Linked DNA regions of Homo sapiens. The protein of the gene in region 3 purifies or fractionates together with the protein of the main gene of each other region. This does not show direct contact. Each region holds a gene or a part of one and is shown on either strand. Other genes may lie near its edges.

Region 1 (3,500 bases), on a different chromosome or scaffold from region 3:
TATAAAATCGAAACTCAATTTCATCAGCCTCTTAGCAGATGTCATGAACATCAGCAAAATAGTAGAAACTCTAAAATAGGATGCTTTTGGCTTAAGCCAAAATTTGTTTCGAGTGAATATGTGACATTTTAATAAATCTATTATTATGCTAGACTGCTGTTGAGGGCTGGTCTGGTATCCTCTTGAACTTGTCCTAAACACTGAATTCCCACCTAAACTAATTCTTACCACAGTTAAATAGTTCAGTCTACCCTTAAACAATCACTTAAAATGTCCACTGAAAGAGGGTAGCATCTTTTCTGATATGTCTATAACTCTCAGCTGAAATTCACTCTAATCAATATAACATTAACCTTCTATGGTTTAAATCGTACAGTCTTAAAAATGTGGTGTTTGTTTCTTTTAGAACTTCTCACATTTTAGAGTGATAGTCTTAAAGTATTCACAAGCCAGCCCTGCAACCTCAAAGATCAAATAGATGATCTTTGCCTTAGAAGCTTTAGAAACAAAATTGGTCAAGTAGAAAATTAATTCACCTGCACTACAATTACCTTTATTTGTGTAAGGATCCAAAAGGATTGTAAATTTTATGCCCACTTTTTAGATGAGTCTCAGAAAAACAAAGAGGGAATCATGAATCACTGTGTTTGAAATATTTCATTAAAAAATAGGATGAGTCACTAAACTTTTTCAAAAAGGTAAGGGTGTGGTATGAAGCCTAACAGAAGAAAGGTGCCTTATCTTCTGCGGCACACCCTGCTAGCCAAGGAAAGTGTCCAGACAGGCAGAGTGAGCTGGCCTGTTTTATAAGATCTTTGCTACCAACAAGTCTACACTGTTTCTCTCTCTATAGCAGGGGCTGTCTCCCTCTGACTGCCTTTTGTCTCTGTCATACTCAGCCTTCAACAAAAAACAAATGGAAAAAAAAAAAGTAAAATATTGTACCTCCAAGCCAAACCTTACACATATTACAGTTCATTGAGGAAACCAGGAAGTGGTCGGTAAACCGAAATTTCCTTCTTGCCTCATAACTGACCACCTTCTTACAAAACCCATTCATGCACACACTCAGACTCCTACCAATGTCCTTCATTTCAGAAAACAGTCTGGGATTTGGATAGCTCATGGAGGCTAACAGTTCCTCTACTTACTATAACTATTTTATTACAATTGGCTATTTTACCAGCTCCTGGCTTTACTAATCTACTAAAAAAAAATATGCACCCGAACCAGGTGTAGTGGTTCACATCTGCAATCCCAACCCTTTGGGAGGCTGAGGCAAGAGGATCACTGGAGCCCAGGAGTTAGAGACCAGCCTGGCCAACATAGTGAGACCTTGTTTCTATAAATTTTTTTTAATTGGGGGAAAAAAAAGACACACTCATGTACAGTGTGACATAATAAATGTTACAAACATTGGAAATCCGTAGAAGACACCACTCATTTGGGTAACACGGTCTACTTTCCCTTTTCATGGGTATCATTTATACATTGCAATGAACAGAAAAATTGAGACAAGTTTAAAACAAGCCACTTGTAAGAGTAACTGGTTAAAAAAAATCAGAATTTTAGAGCTGGGAGAAATATTAAAGACCATGTGGTAGATTTTAGTCAAATTTTCCTGTTTTACAAATGTGAAAATTTAAGTCCTTTTGACATTTTGTTGAAAACTTATGTTTTAGGCAAAACATGCAGTACTGGCTACAGCAATGGAGATGGGCATCAACATTAACTGAATGCCTATTATGCTTCAGGACTACGCAAAGCAGCTCGTTTTAATTCTTACAGCAACCCAGCATGGCAGCTTTTATTCGCCATTGCAGAGATGGAAAAAGTAAGGCTCAGAGGGGTTGGGGAATATTCCCAAGGTCGCATTGAGTGAGGTGGTGGTGGAGCCAGGATTCAAAACGGCTCTGCTTGCCGTCACAGACTGCACTTTTTAGCACAGCACATGGATTTTTTTTTTCCACCCAAAGTTGGAATGAGACAAATGCACAAGCAGGAAATAGGAGTTGTACTTCCTGCTCCCTTACACACATTTGAGGGACCTGAGGAGAAGTTACTTCAACTTAGCTTTAGCATCTTCCTCTCTAAAGTGAGGGGGATGGACTAGGATCTCTAATCTCTGACTCTTTAAAAAAAAACAAAACAAACAAACAAAAACACTCAAAAAAGGCACTCTAAGCAGACTTTCCTTTCACTGGCTTCTGGGCACCCATAATACCTATTCTTTAAAAACAAGTCTGGGCATGGTGGCTCCCGCCTGTAAGGACACTTTGGGAGACCCACGCAGACAGATGGCTTGAGCCCAGGAGTTCGAGACTAGCCTGGGCAATATAGCGAGACCTCATCTCTACAAAAATCTTAAACAATTAGCCGAGCATGGTAGTGTGTGCTTATAGTCCCAGCTACTTGGGAAGCTGAGATAGGAGGATCGCCTGAGCCCAGAAGGTTGAGGCTGCAGTGAGATAAGATTGCACCACTGCACTCCAGCTTGGGTGACAGAGTGTGACCCTGTCAAACAAACTAACTAATGAATAAATAAAAATTGAGCATTCCTTCTTCTATGAGCCCCTTCTGGCACCTGTCTCATTAATGGAGCATGACACTCATTGGGTTACCTCAATCAGACTTGGGCCCTCAAAAACATAGCTGCTTGTAAAGAGACTGTGAGAACTACCCGCCCTGCTTCCAAATTGTGGTCCACTCTGTTTTACAGATGAGTAAGGAAGTGAAGCTCAAGGAGTCAGTGGATCTTCACAGGGAGGTGGCTAACTTGTTTTCTAGGTCTAATGGATGGTAACTACTACAATCTGTTTAATTGCTACGCTGCCATCTCCCTGCATTAACTTCTCCTTGCAGGAAGTTTGTAAGCCAGCAGGAGCATCTTCATAAAGGCAACAATAAATGACTGCTCCAGCTACCCAATGAACACTTGCCGATGACGGTGATACTCTCATAGTTTGTGAACCCCTTGTAATCCAGTGCATGATCTCATTTGACAATGAACTGCCTTCTGGCCTCTGTGAGGGTAGGCTCCAGTTCTGCTTGATTGTTGCCAAAGTGTGGGATATGCTGAATGTAGGGTGGGGCCCTGATTCTTTCCTGACCCTCACTTAAGGTGTCACCACTGCCTCCATCAGGGCACTGGGCTGCTTGCTACACATGCCTCTTCCTGTTTGATTCTCACATCTACTCTATTTTGCACATATAAATGCCCACTTCCCCATCCTGCTTTTAGAAACGAGAAAACTGAAGCATGCCTACAACCATACTTCCAGGAAGTGGTGGAGACAGGATATACTCCCAAAGTCTGCTCTTGCCCCAGGGCTTGCTTTTCACTACTTACTACAATAATTAAATTTTGTCTAGTAACTAGAAAATAAAAGGGGGAGGAGTATTGATGTTTCCATCAGTGACCTTGGGTTACTTACGGTTTGGCTATCTTGTCCACACATGGTTATGCAGAGGTGGCATTATCGAGTGGGCTGCATGCAGTG
Region 2 (3,500 bases), on a different chromosome or scaffold from region 3:
TGTGAACCACCGTGCCCAGCCTGAAGCAGACAGCTTTTTTTTTTTCTTTCTTTTTGTGTAGACCTCCTCTGCGGTCAAGATAAGTGTTTTAAGGCTAGGCACAGTAGCATACATTTGTAATCCCAGCAACTTCGGGAGGCTACAGCAGGAGGCAGGAAGATCACTCGAGCGCAGGAGTTCGAGACCAGCCTGGGCAACATGACAAAACCCTACCTCCACAAAAAAATACAAAAACTAGCCGGGTATGGTGGTATGTGCCTCTAGTCCCAGCTGTGCGAGAGACTGAGGTTCCCTTGAGCCTGGGAGGTGAGCGGAGATCACACCACTGCATTCCAGTCTAGGCAACAGGGCAAGACCCTGTCTCAAAAAAAAGAGAAGAAAACAGTGTTTTAAATGGATAAAATATTTAGTTAATATTTAGAGGAAAACTATGATTATAGATTAATGTTACTATCTAGTTTCACCAGTTAGAAACAGAAACTGAAAAGATTTTGTCAATGGATTAAAAATAATAAGCCCAGCTGGGTGTGGTAGCTCACAACTGTAATCTCAGCACTTTAGGAGGCCTAGGCGGCTGGATCACTTGAGGTCAGGAGTGCGAGACCAACCTGGCCAACATTGTGAAACCCCATCTCTACTAAAAGTACAAAAATTAGCCGGCGTGGTGGCACGCGCCTGTAGTCCCAGCTACTAGGGAGGCTGAGGCAGGAGTATCGCTTTAACCAAGGAGGCAGAGGTTGCAGTGAGCTGAGATCGCACCATTGTACTCCAGCCTTGGCAACAAGAGCAAGACTCTGTCTCAAAAAAAAAAAAAAAAATACACCCAGATGCAGCGGCTCAAGCCTTAAATAAGTTTGGGGTGACCCCCACTGACCCTGGTTAACCACACTCCACCCCAGAGAACTCAGTATTTTTCTTTCAAAGCACTCATCATACTTCTCTTACCTGGCAGAAAGAAAGCTATTTAAGGCCAGGAAGATGTCTGCTGTGTCCCCTGAGCCAAATGGATGAAAGAGAACTTAAAAGACAAGTAAGATAACTCACAATCAAGATCTGAATTTTCCGACAGACTTCATCATCCATAATCACTAACCAATCTTGTAGCGAGTGTGCCCAAATGCTTGTCCCCAAATCCAGCTGCTATACACACAAATGACTTAAGAAATGTATTTACACAATGTGGCTGTGTCACCACCAAGAACACGCTGGGCATTTGACAGCAATTCAACATGAGCTTCAGAGACACCCACAACAGCCAATGAGGCAGATGTTTCAGCTGAGCAAAGCAGATGTCAGACAAGGACAGCTACTGTGTCCAGTTGTTTACAGCAAGCAGCTATTTCTCTCTCCACCAAGAATAATCTCAAGACAAAGAACAGGCCCATAACCATTTTTCCAGAACCACTTTAAAGATCATGGTTCCATGACAAAGGCAAAAGTATCACAGCACATGCAGTCAGCACTCAAAAGCCCAAACACAAGTTCCTTTCCTTTGCAGAACTGAAAAACTTTTACAGTACTTGAGAAGGGCTCACAATGCCTCCTAAAAATAAGTTGAGGGCGAACAGCTGATAGGCAACTATTACACAGAATAAGTTTTGTAGTCTGTCCAGAAAATACCATGGAGTAAGCCTTTCTCCTGAATTCCAAGGCAGATTTCCTGCAACTCCCCCACAAATTAGTGTTAATTTTTTTTTTTTTTTTTTGAGACGGGGCCTAGCTGTGTCACCCAGGCTGGAGTGCAGTGGCGCAATCTCCACTCATTGCAAGCTCCGCCTCCTGGGTTCATGCCATTCTCCTGCCTCAGCCTCCCGAGTAGCTGGGACTACAGGTGCCCGCCACCACGTCCGACTAGTTTTTTTTGTATTTTTAGTAGAGACGGAGTTTCACCACGTTAGCCAGGATGGACTCGATCTCCTGACCTCGTGATCCACCCACCTCAGCCTCCCAAAGTGCTGGGATTACAGGCGTGAGCCACCGCATCCGGCACAATTTTTATTTATTTTTATTTTTATTTTCTTGAGTCAGAGTCTTGCTCTGTCGCCCAGGCTGGAATGTAGTGGTGCAATCTCAGCTCACTGCAACCTCTGCCTCCTGGGTTCAAGCGATTCTCCTGCCTCATCCTCCCGAGTAGCTGGGACTACAGGTGCCCGCCACTATGCCCGGCTAATTTTTTGTATTTTTTAGTAGAGACGGGGTTTCACTGTGTTAGCCAGGATGGTATTTTTTTTTTATTTTTGAGACGTAGGCTCGCTCTGTCGCCCAGGCTGGAGTGTAGCGGAGCGATCTCAGCTCACCGCAACCTCCGCCTCCTGGGTTCAAACAACTCTCCTGCCTCAGCCTCCTGAGTAGCTGGGACTACAGGCACGTGCCATGACACCCGGCTAATTTTTTTTTTTTTGTAGAGATGGGGTTTCACCATGTTAGCCAGGATAGTCTCGATCTCCTGACCTCGTGATCCACCCACCTCAGCCTCCCAAAGTGTTGGGATTACAGGCTTGAGCCACCACGCCCAGCCAGGGATTTTTTTTTTCTTTTTTTTTTTTTTTTTTTTTGAGACGGAGTCTCACTCTGTCGCCCAGGCTGGAGTGCAGTGGCACGATCTCTGCTCACTACAACCTCCGCCTCCCGGGTTCACGCCATTCTCCTGCCTCAGCCTCCGGAGTGGCTGGGACTACAGGCACCCGTCACCACGCCTGGCTAATTTTTTGTATTTTTAGTAGAGACGGGATTTCACTGTGTTAGCCAGGATGGTCTCGATCTCCTGACCTCATGATCTGCCCCCCTTGGCCTCCCAAAGGGCTGGGATTACAGGCGTGAGCCACCGTGCCTGGCCAGAACAGTAATTTATTAATGCATTCATTAATAAATTAGGCCTGGCCCTAGCTAACTAATCAGATTCCCAGAGATTACGGCCAGCACCCCAGCTGAAATCATAGGACCAGGCACTCTTGTCCCACAGGAGTGGTAAGCTGCATAGTGGTTTAAAAATGTTCGGACAGGGGCGGGGGCGGTGGTTCATGCTTCTAATTCCAGCACTTTGGGAAGCCAAGATGGGCAGATCACTTGACATCAGGAGTTCAAGACCAGCCTGGCCAACATGGCGAAACCTCGTCTCTACCAAAAACACAAAAATTAGCCCGGCATGGTGATGCACACCTGTAATCTCAGCTACTCAGGAGGCTGAGGCAGGAGAATCGCTTGAACCTGGGAGGCGGGGGTTGCAGTGGGCCAAGATGGAGCCACTGCACTCCAGCCTGGGCAACAGAGCGAGAATCCATCTCAAAATAAATAAATAAATAAAAATAAATAACATAGGCCAGGCACGGTGGCTCAAGTCTGTAACCCTAGCACTTTGGGAGGCCGAGGCGGGAGGATCACCTGAGGCCAGGAGTTTGAGACGAGCCCAGCCAACATGGTGAAACCCCGTCTTTACTAAAAATAAAAAAAATAGCTGGGCGTGGTAGTACGTGCTTGTAGTCCCAGCTCCTCCAGAGGCT
Region 3 (3,968 bases):
AGCTCAGAGGGAGAAGTGGTCCCTGCTACCCTCTGTCCCCAGCTCGCCAGTCCCAGGCTGAATGTAATTGTCCTCGATGAAGCCATCATCATCCTCATCTTCAGCCACCTGTGGGCGGCCTCCCCTTCCTGTCTCAGGCAGTGGGCGGTGCCGGTAGCTGGCATGGTATCGGCGGCAGAGGTGGCATTTGGCAGCAAGTGCAATGAGGAGCGAGAGGACCACAGCCCCCAGCACAAATCCTACCAGCACAGGCCATGCCCGAGCCCCAGTGCCTGGGCCAGGGGCCACAGCAGACGCTGTGGGGAGCTCCGAAGGCCCAACAAGTGCTGCAGAGAAAGGGACAGCATTATAGGTGGGCCCCAGAGGGGGCTCCCTGGAGAAACCAAGAGCAGTGCAGGTAGGGTCCTTCCCCCAACCCCAGCATCTAAGGGGAAGCCCCCCACCCCCATCATCCTCCCACTGTCACTCACTTTTGTTTGTCTCATTCATGGAGGGGCCTGATGACACCAGTGAGTCTCAGCCTCAACCAGAAAGAGCCCTGGCTCTGAGGAGGCCCCCAGATGCCAGGCAGCCCCAGGGCACAAGTCCTAGAAAATAACATAGGTATGGGTGTCAGGGATGGTCACAGGGTGCACTTTCCAGGTCACACTCACAGCCATGGTAGCCCTGCACAAACTCTGGGGACTGGACAACTGACCACACCAGCTCTCCACAGAAGAGAAACAAGCTGAGCCTACAGAAACTGGCTATTTGTAAGGGACCATCACAGGGTTTGGCTCTGGAAGCTGCTAAAAAAAAAATAAATTGTAGAACTTACTGAGCATTCCTTATAATTCAAGCACCAGGCATCATGCTCACAAAACCCAGTAAGGTAAGTATAAACATTATCCCCACTTTATAGATGAGGGCTCTGAGGCTGAAAAAGGTGAACTGACTCAACTAAAGTCTTCAGATTCGAACCCAGAGCCCAGTCTGTTGCACTGCTTGGTAAGCTGAGGATGGGAGACAGGGGCAGAGGTGGGTCCTGGCTCCCGAAGGTCAGAAAACAGCAATTGCTTGGAGCTACCCAGCCAAAGCGGAGACCACATATGGGGAGGGTGATGCAAGTTGCTACTGAGGACAGGGGCCCTGGACACAGCCAGAGCAGCCCTGGCCCTTCTAAGTTGAAAGCCGCTGCTGCCCACCTCTACCCTCAGCCCTTCAAGCAAACCCCTGTCCTTTCACCTCTACTCAAAGGAGGCCCACACTCTGCCCCCACAGGGAGGCTCAAGCCAGGGAGTATCCAAATGAGGATCACCTGAATCAGGAAATTATCACCCAGGGCTGGGGACACCTAGAGGAGGAACACTTCAATTAGGGGAGTAGCTGGAGGAAGATCATCCAGGCATGGAAACACCTGTAGGAGGAGCACCTGGATCAAAGGAGTGTCTGGAGGAGGCGCACCTGAATCTGGGGAGTATCTAGAGGAGGAGCATGAAAGTTAGAAGTACCTGGCAGACGAACAGCTAGGGCAGGAGCATATCTGCCAGTGGAGCACCTGAACCAGGGGAGTCCTTGGGGGCAGAGTAGCCGGGCTAGGGAAGTACTTAGGAGAGAAGTTGAGGGGAGTACCCCAGTATATTCTTTGATACAAGTGCCTTCAAACCCCCCCCAACCTCCTCACATCCAACCTGGTATCAATCCCCATCATGTCTTCCACTAAACATCTCTGGAATGACAATACCCTCTTCTCCACCCCACTGCCACAGCTGAGTCCAAGCCACCTTCCTCTTGTACTCTAGCCATAATCTCCTAACTGGGCTCCCCACCTCTGGTCTCTTCCACAGAGTGATGGGCCTACAACCCAAATCTGACCCCATCACTAGCCTGGTTAAAATCCCTTCAAAAGCTCCCCATGCCCCACAGTGCCTTGCAATCCAGCACACGGCCCTCAAGCCAAACTCTTCTTCCTCTTCTCCACAGTTCCCTCCCCAGCACTTCAGACAGACACACATGCCCTCCTCCCACTCACCCACCCTCCTGCTCCCTGGCCACGCCCTCCTCAGTTTTTGGGGCGCCAGTCTGTCAAGGCCAAATCAGACCATACCTGCCTGTGAGGTTGTCCCTGGACCTACCCTGGATGACCTGTCACCATCCTGCCCAGTCAACCACCAGTCAGAACCAGTCATTGCTAGGCGGGCAGCTCCCCGTGGGCAACGGCTGGCTGAAGGATCTGTACCCTGGCGCTGCAGGGAGCTGGGCGTTCAGCCCCTCAGTGTGGTGCTTGTGAAATTAACGAGGGGAGCGTGAGAGTGAATATACAGGTGGGAGCGGGAGAGACGTCCTGGGAAGGAGAGGTCAGCTGCTCATTCATTCCTCAGCCTGCTGTGGGCCTCATCCTAGTACTAGGTCCGCAAAACATGAGAATGTGTTACACTGGAATGAACTGAATTCAATTTGACGTTTCTAAGGTTGTATTCCTATTCCTTTCCTCCCTGCCCTGTGAATTCTTCCCAAGAAGACACACACACACTAACCTTCCAAGGGTGCATATACACTCCCCAACAGGCCTCTGAACTCACAGCCCACACTGATCTGCCCATCCCCCATACGCACAGCCCCTCCCCCCAGGTCACACTTTCCTCCACCAACAAACACCCCTCTGACATGCACAGACACCTACCCCAACTCTGATGTGTAGCTTCCTTCCTGCTGCCAGAAGCCCCTTGGGTACTGTGCAGAGCCTGGGTACCCCCTCCCCGGCCCCCCCGGGCCTTCTCTTCTGTTCCCACCTTCAAGAACTGTGCACAATCCGCGGAGTAAGCTTCCGGCTGGGGCCGGCAGAACCTGGACAGGTGGGCGGGTCAAGGCAGAGCTTGACTCACCTGCGGAGGCAGTGGGCGGGGCTGAAGCTGCAGGTCTGGCAGAGGGCGGGCTGCGGCAGCGCCTCCAGTGGGGAGGGATAATTCTACCTCTCCCCCAAGCTTTTGCCAAGAACTTTATGGGTGTAGACCTCACCCTCACCCCCCAATGCTTGCGGTTTGTACAGCTGGGATCCAGAGAAGCGTCCAGCGGGCCCTAGAGGGGCAGACACCTCAGCAGGCAGGTGCTCAGGTTGATAAACAACTGAACGTCCGGTGACTGGTACAAAGTCCAGAGTTGAAGAGGGAGCTTTGCAGGCCTGTAAGGGTGGTGGGCTGGAACCAGAGCGGGTGGGGAGGGCATTCTTTCCAGGCAAAGCCAGGAGGACCAAGAACACTCCCAAATTGCCTACAAATGTGTGTGTAACTGTGTAGGGGGTGAGGGGTGGATCTGGATGGGGGCTCAGCCTTCATCTGGATCTCAGGATCCCGTGACCCCACAAGCCAGGCTCTGAACCTCTCCCGGGTGCTCTCTGATTCCCTTTAGCTTTACTCCTCGTCTCTGGGCCTGGTGCCCCCTGTTCTTCAAGCTCCAGTTCAGGAATCACCTTCCCTGAGTCCTCCCTCTACCCTGCAAGTCCCCACTCTTCCATGCCCAGAGCACCCACTGTCGCAGCATTCCTCATTATCTTGTGATTATTCGCTCTCCTGGGGTGGGGCCAGGCTTTGACAGCCTGTGGCTCCCAGCACAGTACTGACCCAGGGCAGGCTCCCCGTAACTACCTAAGGGAGGAAGGACCGCACGCGCCAAGGCCTGGAGGCCCCGAATTCGCAAGGATAGGCCGGGCACAGTGGGAGCAAGGGCTGCAGAGAGGCCAAGTATGGTGGCTCACGCCTGTAATCCCAGCACTTTGGGAGGCCAAAGCGGGTTGATTGCTTGAGCCCATGAGCGGAGATCAGCCTGGGCAACATAGGGAGACCCCATCTCTACTAGAAACACAAAAATTAGCTGGGCGTGGTAATGCTCACCTGTAGTCCTAGCTACTGGGGAAGCTGAGGGGGGAGGACTGCCTGAGCCCAGAAGTTTTAGGCTACAGTGAGCCATGATTGCGCCATCACACTCCAGCC
Region 4 (4,197 bases), on a different chromosome or scaffold from region 3:
AATACACAAATTACCTGGTCAAGGTAGCACACGCCTGTAATCACAGCTATACGGGAGCTGAGACACGAGAATCACTTTGACCAGGGAGGTGGAGGTTGCAGTGAGTCAGGATCAGGCCACTGCGCTCCAGCCTGGGTGACAGAGTAAGTCTCTGCTCAAAAAAATACATATATATTCAATAATTAATAATGCCTTCAAGACTCTCCCTCCTACACAGAACAGACCCTTTAAAGGAAGCCATCGGTAATTAGACTTGAGACTGACTTCTTCACCACTAACCAGATCTTGGTGGTACGGGGAATTTGTCTTCCAAGTGCTTATTAGTAAAATGCTCATACTTCTGAGTCAGGTATCATCCATGAGTGAATCGTTAGGTAAATATTTTAAATGGCTATCTGTAGTAGCCAGTCTCCAAGATGGCCCAATGATCCCCACCTCTTGGTATACACACCCTGATATTCACACCCTCTCCCCACATTGTACCAGTGTCAATCTGTGTGACCAACAGAATACAGCAGAGGCATGTCATTTCCAAGATAAGTTATACAAGACTGGCTAGAGTCTTGAGCTCTCTTGGATCACTTGCTCTGGGGGGAAAAACCAGTTGCCACATCAAACAGCCCTATGGAGAGTAACTAAGACCTGCCAACAGCCATGTGAGTGAGCTTAGAAGTGGATCCTCCCCTAATCCAGCCTTCAGATGACTGCAGCCCAAGCCAACAACTTGACTGCAACCTCAAGAAAGGCCTAATTCAGAACCACTCAGATTGTCCCACAGACACTATTTCCAGGTGATAAGTTTTGGGGTAATTTGCTACACAGCAATAGATAATTAATTCAGTGTCCCACACAGAACTGAGAAGGAAATGAGGTTTAACCCCCAGTTCCTACACTATTTTAAGACCAATTTTTGTCGATAAGAAAGCAAATTTATTCAGTTATTCAACATTTTTTGGAGACAGGGTCTCACTCTCTTGCCCAGGCTGGAGTACAGCGGTGCAATCATAGCTCACTGCAGCCTTGAACTCCCAGGCTCAAGCAATCCTCCCGCCTCAGCCTCCTGAGTAGCCTGGATTACAGGTGCATGCCACCATGCTGTGTGCGTATGTGGAAACGGGGTCTCGATATGTTGCCCAGGCTGGTCTCAAACTTTTGGTTCAGAGCAATCATCCCACTTCAGCCTCCCAAAGTGCTGGTATTACAGGTGTGAGCCACTGCACCTGGCCTCCATTAGCTTTTTTAATTTTCCTGTTCCTAATGCTTTGGAACTTCACTCCCTGCTTTCACAAACCCTCTGCAGAAGGTACATCAAGTCGCACTCTCTAGTGATTTTAAGTGCTCAGTGACCTTCTGACTGCAAGGAGGGCAGGTTATATTTTCTCATACTCCTTTTTCACTGTACCACATGGTGTCCCCTCTAACGGGAGAAGAAAGTTAGGTCCCCTGCTCCCATTAATATTGGGACAAGGGGGAATTCATTTAGTATTTTACTAGGGAGAGAAAATCTTGATCACAAGACCTGAGAACAATTCTAATTTCTGCAGTTAGTGACTAAGTGACGGCAGGAGCGGGGATACAATCACTGCTCAAGTCTCCTTCACAGCTGAAATGGCCATGGGGGTAGGGAGGAGGTCGTCCCTTACCCCTGCCTGGACTCTGCTGTCTCTCCAAGCAGCAGGAGGGTTGTGCTGCTCTAAGAAAATCTGGAGCCTCCCTCCGTACAAAGAAGGTCAAAGGGCGAGCTTTCTTTCCATCAACCACAAAACCAGCCTCTGCCAAACCTAAACAGAGTGGTAGGCCGTCGGAGGTGAATGGAGCCCCAGACAGAAAACCACAACGAGGCTCTCCTCCCGCCGCCGGCTGGGGTCTGAGTCAGGTGACTCCTCAGGACAAACAGCAAACCTAAACAAAGATCACTCCCCACATGACTGACTAGGGGGAAGAAGACTCTCGCTGTAAGCCCAGGGCTGCCCGGTCCCAGCACGGAAAGCCAGGAACTCCTGCTTTCTGTGCAGTCTCGGAAACTGGAGGAGCTACAAGTTATGCAGCAGCTCAGCCTGCAGGGATGCACCTGGAGGAACTCGGAACCCCATCCGAGGACACAGGCGCCCTGCCCTGAACACACGCCTCCCGCTCCAACACGCAGGCTGGACCCCTCCCCACCAGCTGTCACCGGTGCTTGCGACCAGTCACAGGCAGCGAAGCCTGTCCCTCTGCGGCTGCGACCCCGCGGAGGCGGCAGAGGAGACGCTTCGCCGAGGGCTCCGGGGCCAGGACACGCCCGTCCCCCGGGAAGGGGCGGCAGGGTGGGCGCGGCCCCAGGCCCACGAAGGCTCCGGATCCATCATCCCCCCCACGGGGAGCGAAATAAGCCTCCCACTCCCCGGCCCCAGGCGCCCCACCTTGTCACCGAAGCTGCGGGCCATCAGCAGGTCCGGGCTGGGCGTGCTGTCACCACCCACGGCCTCCTCGCTGCTGGAGCCGGCCAGCGGGTGCGGCATGTCGCGCAGGGAGTGGGGCCCCGTGGACGGCAGGGCCTTGGGGGGCCCGCCCGCCATGGCGCGCACCGCTCGGGACGCGCCGCCGCCGCTTCCTCCTGCTGCCCGCCGCGGCGAGCTCCCCGAGCACCCCGGGCCGAGCCCCGCTCGGCCGCCGCTTAACCCGAGGCCTTGCACCGGCCGTGCTGGGGGCCGCCGCCACCCGCCGGCTGGTCTCTGCCGGCGCTCAGACGCTCCGCTCCGCGCCGCGCGCCCCCGCTCCGCGCCCGAGCCCGCCGCGGGTCCGCTGGCAGCACGGCCGCGGCGCCCAGCCCACACAGCCACACCGCCCACCCGCTCCGGCCCCGCCCCCGAGGCGCCGCGGCCGCCCGGGAGGGGGCGGGGAGGGCGGGGAAGGGGCACGTGGGGAAGGAAGGACGGAGGGAGGGAGGGAGGAGGCGCGGCCCCGCCCCCGCCCGGCAGGAAGTGCGCCCTGGGCCTCTGCGGCTGTCCTCCCAGTGTCCAACGTTGCCTCGCGGAGGCCGCCGTGCGGAGCAAATGTCTAACGGAAATCAGAGGTGGAAAAGAGGTTGGAGGAGCCTGTTCCGTTCCACCCGCGTTTACTGATGCGCCCACCAGCAGCCACGCTTGGGGCTGGGGGCTTTGAGGACACGCACGTGAGTCAGGGTCTTCTGGCCTCTAAGGCACGCGCAGGAAGAACCCTAGATAGACGGAATTACGACCCATATCGGAAGAATAGCATAAAGGGCGACAAGGCTCAAATGAGCTAGAGGACATCGGGTGGGGAACCTGGAAGGGACTTCAAAGAGGCGGTGTGGGGAGTCTTCAGGCTCACTCTGAGGTCCCCATTGTGGCTTGCTTCTGCAGCTGAGCTGGATTTGTGTAAAGTCAAACCTCAGAACAGCGAGCATGAGTAGAGAGTCTCAAATGATATGCGACTCTTCAACTCACACTTTGGCCGAAGAGACTTTTGAAAGAACCATGAGGTTCAAGTTATTCTTCATGCATTTGTGCTTCCTTTCCAGGCCTTGGGCTGAGCTGATTCTCAGCTTTATTTGCTGGCGTGGTGCAAATAGTCAAGGTGTTACTTCCAGCCCTTTGGGGTGTAGGTTCACCTCCTTTTTCCACCTTACCTGTCCCTAGATCTTCTGTTTCCAAGGCCAAGTCTTTAAAGGGTTTTCAGTCCCTCTAGCAAAGTAATGGGTAGGGAGGCTCATCGTGAGGGACCACATTTTCCCTACCCATTCCAAACTCAAAGGTTTGCCTAGCCTTACCTGCTAAAAGGTGATGACAGATGTTGACTCTGGGATTCACTAAGGCCTCTACCACAGTTTTCTCTAGAAACAAATAGAAGAGAATGCAGAGGGTTGAAATCTACCCAAAATATCAGTCAGAGACTCTGAGCTTCAAAGACCTTCCCCTATTTCCCCCAATGTAATTTATATAGGGTTGGACCCTTAGTCCTCAAGCTATCATCTTTATCTCCTCCACATAAGCCTGCCTTGGCTGGGAAAAGTAGCATTCAAAGGGCACTGGGAACAATTTTAAATGCTGCATCTAAGGAATGCCAAGTTCTGGTCCTCTTGGAGTTGGATTAAAATTGTTAACACTTTCACATTCAAGGGCTGCTTACAACTACTACAGACCCTATTATCTGTTCTTCTGAATTAGCATGAAAATGAATAGCACAATATAACTA
Region 5 (3,500 bases), on a different chromosome or scaffold from region 3:
GTGCAGGCCCCACACCCCACTGCGGGCCCCACACCCCACTGCGGGCCCCACACCCCACTGCGGGCCCCACACCCCACTGCAGGCCTGCACACCCCACTGAGGACCCCACAACCCACTGCACACTGTCATCCTTCCTGTCTGTCCAGGCGTCCCTTACTCCCTTGGGCCCCTGCTCAATCCCTCCTCGCTCAGGTCTCCTTGGGCACAGCGTGAAGCTGCACCCCCCCCCACCACCCTACTGCAGGCCTTCACACCACCCCGGCTTTTCCTCTCCAGGGTGCTATCACCTCTGGCCCATGCCACGTTTCCCTCATTCTGCTCCTCTGTGGCCTGTGAGTGCCACGTGGGGGGAGGCTGTGTGTTCTCCCATCTCTCCCAGGCCTGGCCCAGGGAGGCACCAGCCATGGCTGTGCAGCTGCGTGGTGAAGGGCAGTGACAACACCTTACCTCCCACAGAGGAGCTGCCGCTCTCTCTGCCTTCCAAACGAGGAGACCAAGGCCCAGCAACAATAAGCCACCTGCCCAAGGTCACCCTCCTAGTGAGCCGGAGCTGGGGCTGGAACCCAGGCTGCCCCAGGGCCAAGGATGGAAGGGGTGGAGGAAGGAGCCCCAGCCTGGTCTCTGGGTGGCCCCAGGCACTCGGAGACCTGGGCAGGTTGCTTCAGGTCCTGGGCTACAAGTGCCCCACGTGCAGACTCTTGCAGGAAATCAAGGGCTGGGGGCAAGTGTGCTGGGATGCTGGCCACAGGGGCACAGGCCACAGGCACAGAAGGGGCATCTCAGAGCAGGCCCAGTGCAGGGGGGTCCCGCTCAGCCCCCACCGCAGAGCTTGTGGCTAGGATCTGCAGATGAGGTGGGGGAAGGGGTAACATGGTGCCTTGCCCTGCCCCTCCGCTTTGGGCCCACGGGGGGCCGACACCCCCAGACTCACCCCACCAGGATGCCCTTGGAGCTGCGGATGAGGCCAACCAGCACCAGGAGGCAGATGATGACGTCCAGCAGCAGCAGGCCCAGGTAGCCCAGCCACCTGCAGGCAAACCTGGGAGTGCGCCAGGGCACAGGGACCCGGGGCCTGGGAGTGGGGCGCCAGGGGCCCTTGAGGGGGAGCTGAGGCCAGCAGCCTGGCACCCCAGAGGGCATTCAGAGCGTCTGGGTCATGGGGACTGGTGTCAGTTCTTGAGAAAGGCTCCCATTAGGGGAACTCCAGCCACTGCCTGTGACCTCCAGTGGCCCTGGGCCACACCCTGCCCATCAGGCCTCATGTACTAGGTGCTGAGAGCAAAAATTGGCCCAAGGAGGGTGATGCTTTCCCACGTGGGGCGGGCAGGGAAGAGGGCCTGGCCGCACCTGTACCAGTCGTAGAGATCCACCTGCTCCGCCAGCACCTCCAGCGACACCGCCGTGTTCCTCCAAAAGGGGATGGCGGCCGTGTAGCCCAGCAGCGTCTCCAGCAGGCCCTGCAGCCTCTGTACGGCTCGCAGGGGCTCGGGCCGCCCGGCCAGCTGCCGCTCCAGGGTCTGCAGGCTGGGCTCCGCCGTGTGGTTCAGCCCCACCGCCGTGTCCCACACCTGCGCCGGACCCGCGGGCGTGAGGCTGGGAGCGCGCCCGCCTCGCCCCAGAGTCTGGGCCCCTCCTGCACAGCCCCAGTCCCGGCTGCCCCGCCCGTCCTCGCGCAGACGTGGGGCTCCGGAGCAGCAAGAGTGCTCCTGGCCCCAACTCCGCGGCCACTCACGCGGTCCTGGACCCCGGCCACCGTGCGGTTGGCGTGGCGGAGCGAGTAGGTGGCCCTATGGATGCCATCACTGGTCTCCCCGTTGCCGTAGAATCCCACTGCGATGCCGGCGCTGGAGAGGGCGGGCCCGTGAGATGTAGCCCCGCCCACCCACACACACCCCACTCCAGCCCCGCCCCCTCGGGCCGCCCCCTCTGGCCCCGCCCTCCGTCCCCGCCCCACCGCGCTCACCTGCACACCAGCGTGGCGATGATGACACACCAGGCCGTGCAGCAGCAGTCGGCGTCCAGGTGCTCCTCGCTCTTGCGCCGCCGGCAGCACAGCCAGAAGGAGTAGAAGAGCAGGAAGAGGAGGTCCAGGGCGAGGCAGGCCAGGGCGGCGGCCCCCAGGAGCAGCAGGGCCTGAGGGCAGGCAGGAAGCGGCGCTGGAGGGGTGGACCCCCAGCTCAGAGTCCCACGCCCCGCCCCAGCAGGGGACCTGGCGCAGACTCCCATTTAATCCTGCCCCCAGCCCTGGGAGGTGGGCCCCATCCCCGACTTGTAGGTGAGGCATGGAGTCTCCCACCACCTCAGTGATGCACCTGGGGTCACCCAGGCCTGGACCCCACACCTGGGACCCCGGTCTCGCCATCCTCAAGGCTGCACAGCATGAAGACTCCATAGCCACTAGGAGGGGCCGGGTGAACCGACTCCAGGCTTCTGTGGCTCCAGCAAGGGCACATGTCCCCTCCCCACCGGGTCCCCAGAGTCCAGGGCAGGTGCTCAGGACGTCTGCCCCACCAGGCCCCAAGGAGAGGCGCTGGATGGAGGTAGCCAGAGAATGTGGGTGACAAACGAGGACGCTGCTGGTGAGCCACCATCTTTGCAGCCACAGCCCCACTAGGGAGGTCCCTCCACCTCTCCGAGCCTGGTTTATCTTCTGTAGAAAGAAGTGCTGCTGAGCAGGGCAGGGTGGCTCACGCCTGTAATCCCAGCACTTTGGGAGGCCGAGGCGGGCGGATCACCTGAGGTCAGGAGTTTGAGACCAGCCTGGCCAACGTGGCGAAACCCCATCTCTACTAAAAGTACAAAAATTAGCCAGGCCTGGTGGCGGGTGCCTGTAATCCCAGCTACTCAGGAGGCTGAGGCAGGAGGATCACTTGAACCCGGGTGGCGGAGGTTGCAGTGAGCCGAGATTGCACCACTGCACTCCAGCCTGGGCGACAAGAGCGAGACACTGTCTAAAAAAAAAAAAAGTGCTGCTGCTCCCCCGAAGAAGCGAAGCCCTGGGGAGGGGGCTGCCGGCATCAGCTACTGTCCTCACCCCCAGCCCGAGACAGCCCCAGGACCCCAGAGCCCGTCCCCGTCTCAGGCCCAGAACTCTCCTACCTGAGTCCTGGCAGGATCCCCCACCCCAGCTGTAGTCCTGAGGTTTTCAGGTCTGGTAGGGAAATTGGGAGCCTGTGGGGGACTGAACCCCCTCTTGCTGACCATGAAAGTGTTTCTGAGGGGTGAACATGGAAGAGGCCCCATCAGGAGTCTGATCCTGTCTGGGGTCTGTGCACCGAGAAGCTGCACTCAGGGGTGGGCACCGTCCATGGCGTGCCCCCACGCTGGATGAGATGGTGGGGCTGGCCCCACACTGCTACAGGCTGCATACAGGCGCCCCATCGGACACACAGCCCTGTCTGGCTCCAAGCACGGCCTTCCAGTGTGGCTCTCCCCAGGTCTCTGAACACAAAAGACAGACCACAGAACAGACACCAGAGCTCCCCTGTCCCGAGGCCAGG
Region 6 (3,500 bases), on a different chromosome or scaffold from region 3:
TCACGCCTGTAATCCCAGCACTTTGGGAGGCCGAGGCGGGCGGATCACGAGGTCAGGAGATCGAGACCATCCCGGCTAAAACGGTGAAACCCCGTCTCTACTAAAAATACAAAAAATTAGCCGGGCGTAGTGGCGGGCGCCTGTAGTCCCAGCTACTTGGGAGGCTGAGGCAGGAGAATGGCGTGAACCCGGGAGGCGGAGCTTGCAGTGAGCCGAGATCCCGCCACTGCACTCCAGCCTGGGCGACAGAGCGAGACTCCGTCTCAAATAAAAAAAAAAAAAAGAATGAATGAATGGACTGATGTACAGATAGAATGGCGAATGAATGAATGAATGGATGGATACACAAATAAATGAGTAACTTGTAACCCTAAGAGCAGAGATAACTGATGGCCACTGGTCAGAACAAGGCTCCCCATCCACACGCGCCTGGCCTCCTTCCTTCCCAGGCCAACCCCTCCCTCTCTGACCCCGAAGTGGCAGACCTGGCTGGCAGGGAATGCAGACGCCGTCGGGCCCCCGGATCAGCTCCATGGTGTCCTCGTTGACACGTACCAACCGGATGGGGTACACGAAGGACAGGATGCGGCTATTGAAACCACAGGCCCCCACCTGCGAAGGCCAAGACTTGGGCCTGGGCTCTCTCACCATGGGCCCAAAACTGGACAATGAGGGGGAAGTGGGACTCCAGCACCCACACTCTCACGCTCGAACTCTGCCCTCCCCTCTGCATCCAGTGCCTTCTGTGGGCCATCCCTGCAGCAGCCTCGCCCATCCCCAACCTGGCCGCACCTGGCTGTCGAAGTTGCCCAGGCTACAGTTGCACTCTGTGGCCCCGTAGAACTCAGCCACCTGGGGTATGTGGAAGCGGCTGGAAAAGTTGGTCCAGATGGACTGCCGGAGGCCATTGCCTAGTGCCATGCGAACCTGGTGCTGGTTTTCTGCCTCCCGCGGTGGCTGGTTCAGGAGGTAGCGGCACAGTTCACCAATGTACTGCACAATCTGGGGGTGAACTTGGTGTGATTCGAGGCTCCAGAGGCTGCCCTCACTACACTAGGATTCTCCTGATCCCTCAAGCCCCTACTCTCCCCAGGGGCTGGCCATGCCATCCTTTCCCTCTCCGGGTCTCAGCCTTCCCATCTGAACAATGGGAACTTTGCCACAAATGAGCCCTTTGGAATGACTGGCCACCTCAGCTATAAGACAGATGCCCCGGAGTGTAGTTGGGAAGAGGGTAACTAGGGGAAAGGGACAGCTCACCCTTCCCGCTCTCGCTCACCGTGCAGTTGTACTTGATACAATCGTCCCAGAACCGGGAGGCTGAGAACTTCTTCCGAATCACCACCGTCATGCCATGCAGCAGGCACTGGCCGATTCCCACGATGTTTCCTGGAGGCAGAGGGATGGCCCCTGAGGGTCAGCGAGATGAAGACCCTCCCCGGCCCCAAATCAGTGATACTGCCATCCAGCCAGGCAGGCTTGTGCTGCCCTGCAGGCTTCTGCACCTCACATCTGCCTGCCTTGGGTGACCTCCTCCAAGAAGCCTCCCCGGCTTCCATCACCAGGCTCTTCCCTGGTGCTGCCCTCTTGCTCCCTGCCTCTCTCCTACACTCACATATACACCCGACTCTAAGCACCTGGAGGGCAGGAGCTATATTTATTCAAGCTGTCTTCCCTTAAGCCCCTACAAACAAGCAGCAATGCCATGCATATCTGTGGAAACAAACTGAAATGAGACAGGCCCAGATGCCCCGTGGGACACTGCCACACACACTGTGAGGCTGGTGTGCTCATCCTTTTTTCAATTTAAAACAACTTTTTTTTTTTTTTTTGAGACGGAGTCTCGCTCTGTCGCCCAGCCTGGAGTACAGTGATGCCATCTCGGCTCACTGCAAGCTCCGCCTTCCGGGTTCATGCCATTCTCCTGCATCATCCTCCCGAGTAGCTGGGACTACAGGCGCCCGCCACCACGCCCGGCTAATTTTTTTTTTTTTTTGTATTTTTAGTAGAGATGGGGTTTCATCGTGTTAGCCAGGATGGTCTTGATCTCCTGACCTCGTGATCCGCCCGCCTCGGCCTCCCAAAGTGTTGGGATTACAGGCGTGAGCCACCACACCTGGCCTAAAACAAAATTTTTTTTAGAGACAGGTCTCACCATGTTGCCCAGGCTGGCCTTAAACTCCCAGGCTCAAGTGATTCTCCTGTCTCAGCCTTCCCAGTAGCTGAGACCATAGGCATGTGCACCACGCCTGGCTAATCCTGTTTATTTTTATTTTTAAATTAAATTAAATTAATTTATTTATTTATTTTGAGACAGAGTCTTGCCCTGTCACCCAGGCTGATGTGCAATGGCACGATCTAGGCTCACTGCAACCTTTGCCTCCTGGGTTCAAACCATTCTCCTGCCTCAGCCTCCTGGGTAGCTGGGATTACAGGCACCCGCCACCAAGCCCAGCTACTTTTTGTACTTTTAGTAGAGACAGGGTTTCACCATGTTAACCAGGCTGGTCTCGAACTCCTGACCTCGTGATCCACTCACCTCCCAAAGTGTTGGGATTACAGGCGTGAGCCACTGCGCCCAGCCTATTTTTATTTTTTTTGAGACAGTGTCTCGCTCTGTTGCCCAGGCTGGAGTGCAGTGGCGTGATCTCAGCTCACTGCAACCTTTGCCTCCCAGGTTCAAGCAATTCTCATGCCTCAGCCTCACAGGTAGCTGGGATTACAGGCACACGCCACCAGACCCAGCTAATTTTTTTTTTTTTTGAGACAGTGTCTCGCTCTGTTGCCCAGGCTGGAATGCAGTGGCGTGATCTCAGCTCACTGCAACCTTTGCCTCCCAGGTTCAAGCAATTCTCGTGCCTCAGCCTCACAGATAGCTGGGACTACAGGCACACGCCACCACACCCAGATAATTTCTTTCTTTTTTTTTTTTCCGAGACAGAGTCTTGTACTGTTGCCCAGGCTGGAGTGCAGTGGCACGATCTTGGCTCACTGCAAGCTCCACCTCCCGGGTTCACGCCATTCTCCTGCCTCACCCTCCCGAGTAGCTGGGCCTACAGGCATGAGCCACCACACCTGGCTAATTTTTTGTACTTTTAGTAGAGACGGGGTTTCACCGTGTTAGCCAGGATGGTCTCGAACTCCTGGCCTCAAGTGATCCGCCCACCTTGGCCTCTCAAAGTGCTGGGATTACAGGTGTGAGCCACCACACCCAGCCTAATTTTTGTATTTTTAGTAGAGATGGGGTTTTGCCATGTTGGCCAGGCTGGTCTCGAACTCCTGGCCTCAAGTGATCCGCCCACCTTGGCCTCCCAAAGTGCTGGGATTACAGGTGTGAGTCACTGCGCCTGGCCCAAAGCTGTGTGTTTCTACTGCAGCACACTGCCTGATGGGGGTGGGGTTCCTAGAGACCTGGCAGGTGCTGGAGGCTGTGTGACAGCCCTAGAGTTACCTGCTGAGTGGTAGAGGGGGAGGCAGTCATAGACGATGTCGTTGGGCCG
Region 7 (3,500 bases), on a different chromosome or scaffold from region 3:
AGAGAGGCAAAGTGAAATTAAATTTCTCAGTGTGAGTCATGCAGACATATGAAAAGAATACCAACTTTTTTTTTCTTAAATGACAAGGTTTCACAATGTCACCCAGTCTGGAGTGCAGTGGTGTGATCATAGCTCACTGCAACCTCAAACTCCTGGGCTCAAGCTATCTTCCCCACCTCAGCCTCCCAAGTAGCTGGGACTACAGGTACTTGCCACCATGCCTAGCCAATGTATTTTTATTTTTGCAAGGATGGGATCTTGCTGTGTTGCCCAGACTCATCTTGAACTCCTGGCCTCAAGCAATCCTCCCACCTTGGCCTCCCAAAGTGCTGGAATTACAGGTGTTAGCCACCTTGCCAGTCCTGAAACCAATTTTTAAAAATTACAACTTGCCTAAGTATAGTCTCTCATTCCTGACTTACATGAGCTAATGTGGGGGAACTGGTTTGGTAACTGGATAATGTGGTGCTTTAAGTGAGAGGCAGTTTAGTGGTGGGGTAAAGAGCCTAGTCTCTGGTGCAGTACTGCCTGGATTCGGATCTTGGCTCTGCCACTCATTTGTTGTGTGAACATAACTAAGTTTATTTTCCTAGGCCTCTGTTTCTTCACCTATACAATGTGGATAACCCTCATAGAGTTGTTTAAAATAGGACCTATGTATGTAAATGCTTAGAATAAGGCCTGGCATGTAGTAAGCACTTGTTAAAAAACAGTAAAACAGGCTGGGCATGGTGGCTCATGCCTGTAATCCCAGCACTTTGGGAGGCAGAGGCAGGCGGATCACCTGAGGTCGGGAGTTTGAGACTAGCCTGACCAATACGGAGAAACCCCGTCTCTACTAAAAATACAAAATGAGCCAGGCGTGGTGGTGCATGCCTGTAATCCCAGCTACTTGGGAGGCTGAGGCAGAAGAATCACTTGAACCTGGGAGGCGGAGATTGCGATGAGCCGAGATCAAGCCATTGCACTCCAGCCTGGGCAACAAGAGCGAAACTCCATCTCAAAAAACAAAAAAACCCAGTAAAACATGACAATAACAAACGTTCAATAAGCTCTCACTATGTGCCCAAGCACGGTAGTAAGAATATAAACATATGTTCATGTTGTCCTGGGGAAAAAAAAAAAAAGAGAATATGAACAATATAAAACAAAGGATTAGGTAAGGAAAAAAATGAGACAACAACAGAAGAACATAGGAAGGAATACACAGGCCTCACAAACCAGAGGAAATTCTCATGATTTTATAATGTTAGTGTGAATTCATAGTCATCTCTCAGAAGACAATATCCCATCTATGGGTGATAGCAGTTTCAGTCTCCAGCATACAATTCATTTGGCTCCCCGACTGTGTAATAACTTCTCTAATCAATAGGTCACAAGAGTGTCAAATGCATTAGCACTAAATTTATATCAAAAAGTATAATTAGAAGGAAAGGTAAAATTACGACTTTAAGAAGGCTTTTGGATTACCTACAGATTTATCTATCTTCCTTTTGGTCCTCTATCATCAGAGGTAATTTAAAAGTTTGTTGCATTTTCAAATCAAAACCACAACGCAATGCCACCTTACTCCTGCAAGAATGACCATAATCAAAAAACAGTAGATGTTGGCATGGATGTGGCCATCAGGGAACACTTCTACACTGCCGGTGGGAATGTAAACTAGTACAGCTGCTATGGAAAACAGGGTGGAGATTCCCTCAATAACCAAAAGTAGAACTACCATTTGATCCAGCAATCTCACTACTGGGGTTCTACCCAGAGGAAAAGAAGTCATTCAAAAAAGATACTTGCACACACGTTTATAGCAGCACAGTTCACAACTGCAAAATCGTGGAACCAACCCAAATGCCCATCAGTCAACGAGTGGATAAAGAAACTTGTATATACGTATATATGATGGAATACTACTCAGCCATAAAAAGGAATGAATTAACAGCATTTGCAGTGACCTGATGAGATTGGAGAGTATTATTCTAAGTGAAGTAACTCAGGAATGGAAAACCAAATGTAGTATGTTCTCACTGATATGTGGGAGCTAAACCATGAGGACGCAAAGGCATAAGAATGATACAATGGACTTTGGGGACTTGGGGGAAAGGCTGGGAGGGGGTGAGGGATAAAAGACAACAAATATGGTGCAGTGTATACTGCTTGGGTGATGGGTGCACCAAAATCTCACAAATCACCACTAAATAACTTATTAATGTAACCAAATACCACCTGGACCCCAGTAACTTATGGGAAAAAAAAGTTTGTAGCATTTGGCCAGGTAGGGTGGCTCACGCTTGTAATCCCGGCCCTTTGGGAAGCAGAGGCAGGTGGATCCTTGAGGCCAGGAGTTCGAGACTAGCCTGGGCAACATGTTGAAACCCCGTCTCTACTAAAAATATGAAAATTAGCCGAGTGTGGTGGCATATGCCTGTAATCCCAGCTACTTGGGTGGCTGAGGCAGGATAATCGCTTGAACCTGTAAGGCGGAGGTTGCAGTGAGCTGAGATGGTGCCACTGCATTCCAGCCTGGGTGACAGAGTGAGACTCTGTCTTAAACAAGTTTGTTACATTCAGAACAGGTACATGAAGATCTATTCCAGAAAAAGGGGCAGAAACTATTCAGAGGGTGCTGAAGTGAACTTGGGAGGAAGGAAAAAGGGAAGCCTTCTGTGTGGCCTCTGCTTTTTGGGAATGGAAAAAGAAACTGCAATTGGATTAAATAGTTGTTTCCATTAAGACCTAATTTTGTAAATGTCTTGAAATGCAATGTGTCATGAATGCCCAAAAAGCAGTAATGGCTCTTTATTATTTTACCTTTTTCCAGAGGGACCAGATGGCATACTTAGTGTTTTCTGTAAACTGAATTTACTGGCAGGAACATTTTCAGCTGACTGGGATAAACTGATGCTTCGATTCCTGAAGAACTCAAATCCACCACTTGAACTGGGTTCCTAGGATTACACACCATATGCAGTACCATTAGAGAAAGATGCTACGTGGGTGTATGGCCTAGAGAAGATGTGTAACTTTTGCAACTAACCTGAGCTGTGGGTGTGGATGGAGGTGTCTCAGATTCTCCAGAGCCAATGGCTTTAAGAAATCGAATCATGTGTCGACAAAGGTCCCACTTGCCTTGTTCTAGTGCTGTGTTGAATAGAAGGGTAGCATGTTGCCTACTTACTGCAGGGACTTCCATATTCTACAAAAAACAACCAGGACAGCATTCTTTTTATACTACACAATTTGGGAAGATATGAGCAATTCTTTATCTCGTTTTCTAAACTCAAAGAATGTAGCCACACCACCACAGGGGTTAGTTTAATAATAAGATTAAAAAGTACCATACAAGGAAAAGCGAGGCAAGTACTCTTCTGGTGTATGTAAACTATAATTTATTAAACTCCTACTACATGCCAGATAGCATACATATACTTTAAGTCATTTCATTTATTTCTCCCAGTGACTCTGCAGATAGGCATATCATTTGTATTTTACAAGTGAGGAAA

The links.
Region 1: the proteins of C1orf210 (region 3) and ZDHHC3 purify together in Homo sapiens (affinity purification with mass spectrometry; one large-scale study listed by BioGRID and IntAct). This does not show direct contact.
Region 2: the proteins of C1orf210 (region 3) and FAM234A purify together in Homo sapiens (affinity purification with mass spectrometry; one large-scale study listed by BioGRID and IntAct). This does not show direct contact.
Region 4: the proteins of C1orf210 (region 3) and SNX30 purify together in Homo sapiens (affinity purification with mass spectrometry; one large-scale study listed by BioGRID and IntAct). This does not show direct contact.
Region 5: the proteins of C1orf210 (region 3) and TTYH3 purify together in Homo sapiens (affinity purification with mass spectrometry; one large-scale study listed by BioGRID and IntAct). This does not show direct contact.
Region 6: the proteins of C1orf210 (region 3) and SLC27A4 purify together in Homo sapiens (affinity purification with mass spectrometry; one large-scale study listed by BioGRID and IntAct). This does not show direct contact.
Region 7: the proteins of C1orf210 (region 3) and RIC1 purify together in Homo sapiens (affinity purification with mass spectrometry; one large-scale study listed by BioGRID and IntAct). This does not show direct contact.

The regions. Positions count from the first base shown.
Region 1 is NC_000003.12:44,966,175-44,969,674, forward strand, and holds part of ZDHHC3 (palmitoyltransferase ZDHHC3), read right to left. Parts: intron 1-3,500. UniProt on the Homo sapiens protein: Golgi-localized palmitoyltransferase that catalyzes the addition of palmitate onto various protein substrates.
Region 2 is NC_000016.10:237,821-241,320, reverse strand, and holds part of FAM234A (protein FAM234A), read right to left. Parts: intron 1,112-3,500; exon of another isoform or gene 1,045-1,111; intron 1-1,044.
Region 3 is NC_000001.11:43,282,782-43,286,749, forward strand, and holds the start of C1orf210 (type III endosome membrane protein TEMP), read right to left. Parts: upstream 2,801-3,968; 5' UTR 2,663-2,800; intron 588-2,662; 5' UTR 490-587; coding exon 471-489; intron 327-470; coding exon 4-326; 3' UTR 1-3. UniProt on the Homo sapiens protein: May be involved in membrane trafficking between endosomes and plasma membrane.
Region 4 is NC_000009.12:112,749,363-112,753,559, reverse strand, and holds the start of SNX30 (sorting nexin-30), read right to left. Parts: upstream 2,801-4,197; 5' UTR 2,559-2,800; coding exon 2,403-2,558; intron 1-2,402. UniProt on the Homo sapiens protein: Involved in the regulation of endocytosis and in several stages of intracellular trafficking. Together with SNX4, involved in autophagosome assembly.
Region 5 is NC_000007.14:2,645,486-2,648,985, reverse strand, and holds part of TTYH3 (protein tweety homolog 3), read right to left. Parts: intron 2,134-3,500; coding exon 1,964-2,133; intron 1,845-1,963; coding exon 1,733-1,844; intron 1,569-1,732; coding exon 1,348-1,568; intron 1,028-1,347; coding exon 932-1,027; intron 1-931. UniProt on the Homo sapiens protein: Calcium-independent, swelling-dependent volume-regulated anion channel (VRAC-swell) which plays a pivotal role in the process of regulatory volume decrease (RVD) in the brain through the efflux of anions like chloride and organic osmolytes like glutamate.
Region 6 is NC_000009.12:128,350,527-128,354,026, reverse strand, and holds part of SLC27A4 (long-chain fatty acid transport protein 4), read right to left. Parts: coding exon 3,452-3,500; intron 1,390-3,451; coding exon 1,280-1,389; intron 1,003-1,279; coding exon 793-1,002; intron 613-792; coding exon 486-612; intron 1-485. UniProt on the Homo sapiens protein: Mediates the levels of long-chain fatty acids (LCFA) in the cell by facilitating their transport across cell membranes. Appears to be the principal fatty acid transporter in small intestinal enterocytes.
Region 7 is NC_000009.12:5,765,107-5,768,606, reverse strand, and holds part of RIC1 (guanine nucleotide exchange factor subunit RIC1), read right to left. Parts: intron 3,194-3,500; coding exon 3,035-3,193; intron 2,946-3,034; coding exon 2,809-2,945; intron 1-2,808. UniProt on the Homo sapiens protein: The RIC1-RGP1 complex acts as a guanine nucleotide exchange factor (GEF), which activates RAB6A by exchanging bound GDP for free GTP, and may thereby be required for efficient fusion of endosome-derived vesicles with the Golgi compartment.